Linked DNA regions of Homo sapiens. The protein of the gene in region 2 purifies or fractionates together with the protein of the main gene of each other region. This does not show direct contact. Each region holds a gene or a part of one and is shown on either strand. Other genes may lie near its edges.

The links.
Region 1: the proteins of YJU2 (region 2) and DHX35 purify together in Homo sapiens (affinity purification with mass spectrometry; 3 studies listed by BioGRID and IntAct, with this or other methods). This does not show direct contact.

What each region holds. Positions count from the first base shown.
Region 1 is NC_000020.11:38,960,817-38,964,566, forward strand, and holds the start of DHX35 (probable ATP-dependent RNA helicase DHX35), read left to right. Parts: upstream 1-1,527; 5' UTR 1,528-1,551; coding exon 1,552-1,591; intron 1,592-3,750. UniProt on the Homo sapiens protein: May be involved in pre-mRNA splicing.
Region 2 is NC_000019.10:4,249,994-4,253,743, reverse strand, and holds part of YJU2 (splicing factor YJU2), read right to left. Parts: intron 2,718-3,750; coding exon 2,573-2,717; intron 1-2,572.

The DNA of each region.
Region 1 (3,750 bases), on a different chromosome or scaffold from region 2:
CAGGCAACTAAACTACAGGTCACTTTTCTCACAAAAGTGAGAATACAGTTCCTAGACTACAAGGGGGAATGTTTAAGTTGGATAGATAATTTAGAGCTAGCCCTTTAAGGGATAAAGATAATTTAAAGGATGGATGGAGAATTCTAGGCCGAGGGACTAACAGATATTGAGTCCCTACATTAATTACTATAAAAATAAATCAAAGAAGATTCTTACATGAACCTATGCAGGTAAATTCAGATTTTTTTCCCCCTGGTGGATTTGCTCTGAGTTGAGGTAATGAGAGCTAACATTGATTCAGTGCCTGCTATGTTTTGCACTGTTAGGTACTTTACATGTTATCTCATGTAATACCTCTTTAAACCTCATTTTACAACTAAAATTAAATGACAGCTAGGAGCTAGGAAATGGCAAAGTTACGATTCCAAGTCTGGACTGGTTGTCCACAAAAGCCCCTGCTCTTGCCATAATGATGCCACTTCTTTCAAAGAATTCAGAATTTTCTTCACAGCTTTAAAAATGCATAGATTCTGAAGCCTCTCACTTCCTTCCAATTAGTTGCCTACCTAGAAAGTTATTTCCTCCACTTGAGCTCATCACCCCTTCTTAGCGCTCCTTTGGATTACTGTAATTTCTTTTTCTTTGACCTCACCTTTCGTCTGATGGATTAGTGTAATCTTTCCCAAATTTGTTAATCTGAAGAATTCAGGAGCTTCTCAAAATGCAGGTTCCCAAGCCATGCTCCAGGACATCGATTCAGAATTGGATCAAGGCCTAGAATCTGTGTTTTTAACAAGCATTTGACTCAAGGGTATCAAATTGGAGGAAGCACTGAGTTGGTGGACTACCTTAATTGATCTACCCATTTTCAGTCTCTTCTGCCAACCCATTCGCTCCACCCCACCCCCAGTCCGTTTTTCCGTTTTGCCCTCAAGGTCCCTGAAGACTTCCATATCATTTCGCATTGTTTTATTTGGGGCACTGTGCCGCACTACCTGGGCCCACAGCAGGCGCGCAATATTTACTGACAAATACAACCCACGAGGTAGTTCCTATTATTACCCTTCAATTTGAAATTGAGAATAAAACAGAAGTCGACAAGTTGAGGTAGCTTGTGACATCAGTATTTCGTATTTAATCCAGAAAGCACTGCTTCAACGCCCAGTGCGTGCAAGGTTCCACTCTCGGGCCAGCGGTCCTCTCCCAAAGCCCGTTCTTCCTAAGTGTGCGGCCGCCATCCAGGACACGCCACGCTCGTAAAAGGTCACCTGAAGCATCTACCCTCCACGCTCAAGAGGTAGGCGGAGGAGCGCGCCCTTTTCTCCAAAATGGCTGAGCAGGGTCACGTGGGCTCGGGGGCGGGGCCGGTGCGCTCGCCGGAGCCTGGAAGTGGGTCACGTGGCTCAGACGGGGGCGGTAGCTGTGGGGGCGTGGCCGTCACACGGCGCGATCCGTCTGGGCAGCGGCTCTTCGGGGGCCACGCCCTCCGGGCCCTGGGGGCCTAGCGCGCGACGGTGGGGTGGAGCTAGCCTCGTGACCTTTTACCCCAACATGGCTGCGCCCGTGGGACCGGTGAAGTTCTGGCGACCCGGTAAGGCCCTTGGTGGAACGCTGGGCAGATGCGGCGGCCTGACTTCGGTCTTGGCGCCGCGGCCGGCGCCCTGGGGCCAGCAGACCTGCTCGCAGGCCTGACCTCGGCGAGCTGGGCGCTGCCGCCTCTGTGCGGGGGGAGCTCTGGCTCAGGCTCCCCAGTGGTCCCGAGGGATTTGGGGGTGCTCCCCTAGCGTGAGCAGAAACTCTTTGTGACCTTGTTAAAGTGGTCCAGCCTCCTCAGGCCTCGTCTTCCTCGTTACTGATGCTTGTCCTGCCCACCCCGCGAGATGGGGAATCCTAAAGCTCCCTCTCGTGTCTCGTTAGCGCCCTGGGGTTGCGCTGTGGCCCGACAGACAATGCTGCTCGCTGCTGGAGGCTTGCAAGCCCAAGTTATGGAGTCAGACTGTCCGGGTTCGAATTTTCGTCTCTGCCTTGTAGTAGGGTGACCTTGGGCGAGTCACTTAATGCCTCTGAGCCATGACTTCTTTACCTGTAAAGTGGGCAGAACAATAGCTTCTATGCTGTGGGCTTAAATGACAAGCAGAACGCGTTGTCAGACTTAGAATAAATGCTCAAAAAAAGGGAAAGTGTGTTATTTTCTTTTAGGATAATTGTTGTCCACTCCGAATGTCTACTAGAAAAGGGAACAGTCCTTCATATTGGCTGCCAGCCACTTCCTCTCTTACAGACTAACACGAATCACAATCACAAAATGCTTTACTTGTTTTGTCTTGATATTTACTCATTAATCAGGTTTTTACTGAATGTGCATATGCCAGACCGTACTAGATGCATTACTTCCTCTCTGCAAACAGTTTCTTGTAAAAAACAAAAGTTTTTAAATTACAGCTACCAGCTTGATTTTTTTCTACCACCTGCACCCCTGCAGGTCTGGATGTGCAAAGTATATTGCAGCAAAAATGAAATGACACCAAGAATGTAATATAAGCAAAGCTTTTAATTTTTCAGTGGTTCTCTGAAATTCTGACCATGCATATAAGTGATGTGAGAGATAAACCCAAGCAAGAGATATGTTTAATGCTTTTTAAAAATTTGTAGTCTGTCACTTGACAGTTTTATGGTTCAGCATTTCAAGTCATCAGCCAATTATCCATCCTGAGTTTTATTTGCATCCAAAACTAGGAACTTACTAAGTAATGAATACTTTTAATTTATTCACGCTTTTAGTAACAGGTGAAAGTGTTAGGTATAATAAAGAGCTGAATTAATTGTTTGAAATCAGACCAGGGTACTATTTTGGTTAAAGAACGTGGAATTACTCTTAAGAGTTCTATTTCATTATTTAGTTCATCCATTGAGGGTACACTTATTGAAAACCTAATCCTGTGTTCAGGAGACAAATACAGATGCTCAGGGCTCTGCTCTCAAGTTACTGTCTCTCTCTTAATTGAATATAAAGTTAGATGTCCTCTAGAAGAGATTTTACAATGAGACAGAGTAAGGTGGTGGTAAAGAAGATGAGCTCTAGAGTCAGACTGCAGTGCCCATCATGTCTACCACTTACTAAGTTGATGACTTGATAGTCACTTAAATTCTCAAAGTCTCAGTTACTCCATCTGTAAATTGGGTATAATACCTACCCTACCCAAAGTAGTGTTGTGAGGTTTAAATGAGAATAACACACAACAGGATCTTGGCACTAGATAGGTTACTATTATAATTATATGGAAGTATGGAAGAGGGAGGGAAAGTTGAATGTATGGATAAGAAATACTTCATTAAGGTGGTATTTTTGGAGTGAACATTAAAGGATGAATAAGGTTTTGTTTCATAGAGAAATGGAACTCGAAGCAAAGGGTGCAGCATGAACAAAGGCAGAATGGGATTTGTGCCTTTAGAATGTCCAGAAAGCCAAAATAACAGAGCAGTGTGATAGTGTTAAGTGCTAGGGTATATTTTGGGGTATGACAGGAGATGAAGCTAGAAAAGTAGGTAAGGGCCTCATTGTGAAAGGTCTTCATGACAAGTTAAAAAGTTTAGACTTCACTGTTTTTTTGTTTTCTTTCTTTTTTTTTTTTGAGATGGAGTCTGGCTCAGCCGCCCAGGCTGGAGTGCAGTGGCGCAATCTCGGCTCACTGGAACTTCCACCTCCCAGGTTCAAGCGATTCTCCTGCCTCAGCCTCCTGAGTAGCTGGG
Region 2 (3,750 bases):
TATGTATACAGCATGCCCCTGTTTTTGTTTATTGAATAGAGAGGCTAAATACACCCTGGTATCTTAAATTACACACTGGAACAGAAAAGTGACATTAGCAGAAAAACTGAAATCTACCTTTGGTCTAAATGCTAATAGTAACACTATGTTTTTTATTTTTTTGGGGACAGGGTCTCGTGCTGTTGCCCAGGCCGGAGTGCAGCGGCAGGATCATGGCTCACTGCAACCTCAGCCTCCCGGGTTCAAGCAATCCTCTCACCTTAGCCTGCCGAGTAGCTGGGACTACAGGTATGCACCATCACACCTGGCTAATTTTTAAATTTCTTTTTGGTAGAGACAGGGTTTCGCCATGTTGCCCAGGCTGGTCTCTAACTCTTGGACTCAACCGATCCTCCTGCTTTGGCCTCCAAAGTGCCGGGATTACAGGCATGAGCCACTGCACCCAGCCACAGCCTACAATGTTAATGGTAACATTCCACCTTTAGTTTCTTTTTTTAATTAAAATTTGTGTGTGTGTGTGTGTGTGTGTGTGTGTGTGTGTGTGTAGACACGGACAGGGTCTCACTATGTTGCCCAGGCTAGTCTTGAACTTCTGGTCCCCAGCAATCCTCCTGCCTTGCCTTCTCAAAGCGCTGGGAGTAAGCCACCATGCCTGGCCCCACCCTTAGTATCTTACTGTGACAGATGTACCCTGGTTATATAAGATGCTAATATTCGGGGAAGTTGGTGAGGGGGTAGGTGAGAATTATCTGTACTATCTTTGGAACTTTTCTGTAAATCTTCAGGTATTTCAAAAAAAGTTTTTGTTTGTTTTTTTGCAGACAGGGTCTCACTCTGTCACTCAGGCTGGAGTATAGCAGTGAAATCATGGCTCACTGCAGCCTTGGCCTCCCAGACTCAATTGATTCTCCTGCCTCAGCCTCCCAAGTAGCTAGGACTATAGGCGCATGCCATCATGCCCAGCTAATTTTTATATTTTTTTGTACTGACGGGATCTCACTATGTTGCCCAAGCTGGTCTTGAATTCCTGGATTTAAGCGATCCTTCTCCCTTGACCTCTCAAAGTGTTGGGATTACAGGCGTGAGCCACTGCACCCAGCCAAAATATTATTATTATTATTAATTTATTTATTTATTTTTGAGACGGAGTCTCGCTCTGTCGCCCAGGCTGGAGTGCAGTGGCGCGATCTCAGCTCACTGCAAGCTCCGCCTCCTGGGTTCACGCCATTCTCTTGTCTCAGCCTCCCGAGTAGCTGGGACTACAGGCACCCGCCACCACGCCTGGCTAATTTTTTTCTGCTTTTTTTTTAGTAGAGACGGGGTTTCACTGTGTTAGCCAGGATGGTCTCGATCTCCTGACCTCATGATCCGCCTGCCTCAGCCTCCCAAAGTACTGGGATTAGAGGCGTGAGCCACTGCGCCCGGCCTATTTTTGTATTTTTTTTTAGTAGAGTTGGGGTTTCATCATGTTGTCCAGGCTGGTCTCGAACTCCTGACCTCAACTGATCCACTTGCCTTGGCCTCCCAAAGTGCTGATTATAGCTGTGAGCCACTGCGCCCAGCCCAAAATGTTTTTTTAATCAAAGAAAAAAAGCTTATGGCAAAAAAGTATTCAAAGAGTACTTAAGCATAGGAAGAGAAAATTTTAAGTTATCTTCAGTCTTTCCTTAAATTCTCAAGGTAACAAATAAAAGTCAAATTGCAATTTTTATTGGCTGTGTAATATTCCATTGCACGCTACTTTTTTTTTTCTTTTTGAGACAGAGTTTCATTTCGTTGCTCAGGCTGGAGTGCAATGGCGCAATGTTGGCTCACTGCAACCTCTCCCTCTCGGGTTCAAGCGATTCTCCTGCTTTGGTCTCCCAAGTACCTGAGATTACAGGCATGAGCCACCACGCCTGGCTCACTTTTGTATTTTTAGTAGAGACGGGGTTTCACCATGTTGGCCAGGCTGGTCTCAAACTCCTGACCTCAGGGGCTCTCTTTCCTGCCTTGGCCTCCCAACCTGCTGGAATTACAGGCATGAGCCACTGTGCCTGGCTTTTTTTTTTTTTTTTTTTAGTTGGAGTCTTGCTCTGTCACCCAGACTGGAGTATAGCGGTGCAATCTTCGCTCACTGCAACCTCTGCCTCCCAGCTTCAAGTGATTCTCCTGCCTTAGCCTCTCGAGTAACTGGGATTATAGTCCGCCACCATGCCCAGTAATTTTTGTATTTTTAGTAGACATGGCATTTCGCCATGTTGGCTAGGGTGGTCTTGAACTTCTGACCTCAGGTGATCTGCCCGCCTTGGCCGCCCAAAGTGCTGGGAGTACAGGTGTGAGCCATGCCCAGCCTGCATGCTAATTTGTTCTTCTCATCCCTTATTATTATCTATCTAGGTTGCTTCTGTCTTTTTGCCTTTATTTAGAATGCTGCCATGAACATCTCCCCCAAACTGTTGTCTGTTTCTTGGGGATAAACTGAAATGAGATTCCCTGGATGGAGAGGATTGGAGTTAAGGAACCCCAGGGCCCGCCCTGATCTGAGGTGTGCTGGGGGAGAGGGACCGGCCTGGCCGGCCGTCTCACCTACCTTGAAGGTGATCTCTGCCAGGCAGCGCGTGCACTTGATGTAAAAGCGGAAGATGGGCAGGCCCAGGTAGACCTCGTTCTGCACCGTCTCCTTCCGAGCATTGAATTTCTTCCCCTTGTAGATGTATTCTCCGCACGTCTTACACCTGCGGGGCAGCATGTAGGGATGTGAGCTGTCTTGGGACGCTGGCTCCCACTGGCAGGCTGTCCCTGCGGCATCCTGCAAGATCACTGCTTGCTTGCCTCCAGCAACGGGGAGCTCCCTCCTTCAAGAGGCAGGCTGCCCCACCCTGTGTCCAAATTTCCTCTACCTGAGAACTTCGTGTTCTCATTCATATCTTCCTGGGGCTCAGTCCAAGGGTCGCCTGCTTGGGAAGCCCCCTGAGTAGGTGAGGCCTGCCTGTCATGCACTCCCAGAAGCAATCTTTGTGCTTACGGGGCACCCCACCCTCCAGGAGGAAAGATGCCACACAGAAAAATGCTGCCCCACCCCCCTCTTCCCCTCCTACTCCGGGCTCTGCTCCCCAGCCCAGCACGCCCGCCTCCTGTCTGATCCTGCAAACACCCCCAGCTCAGTCCCAGCTCAAGGCCTCTGCTCCTACAGTCTCATGGCCGGCGACACCCTTCATCCTCAGACCTCAGCGCCACCAGTATTTTGCCTGATGTCACCGTACCCCAGCTACCTATAGCCCTCCCTCCTGCGCCACTGCCCCAGGGGCTCTCTCCTGCCTGACTTCGGGGGCCCGTGCACCTGCCTGACTACCACTATTCTCCACTTCCCATTAGACTGTGGGCTCCATGAGGCCAGGGACTTTGTTCCTGGCGCTCGGCACAGACCCTGGCACACAGCAGGTGCCCAATAAATGAGTGTTGAATGAATAAATGAATGAATGAGGGGGAGGAGTAGACAGGCCAACAACACATGGGCATGAACCGAATTTCACTGACCCAGATGTCTCTTTCCTCGTTAGGTGCGTGATTTCAGATATGCTAGAGCATGAAAAGGTATGGGGTTGAGAGTTGGTGAAATACAGTAATTCTGAAGTGCTACAAAAGGCAAGATCTGGGCACCGTGAGGGGATGATGGAGGCCTCCCGGAGGGGTGAGATTGGAGCCATGACCTATGGCAGACAAGAGGAGCCTGCCATGTGTAAGTAGAAGGAGAAGGCCAGGTGCGGC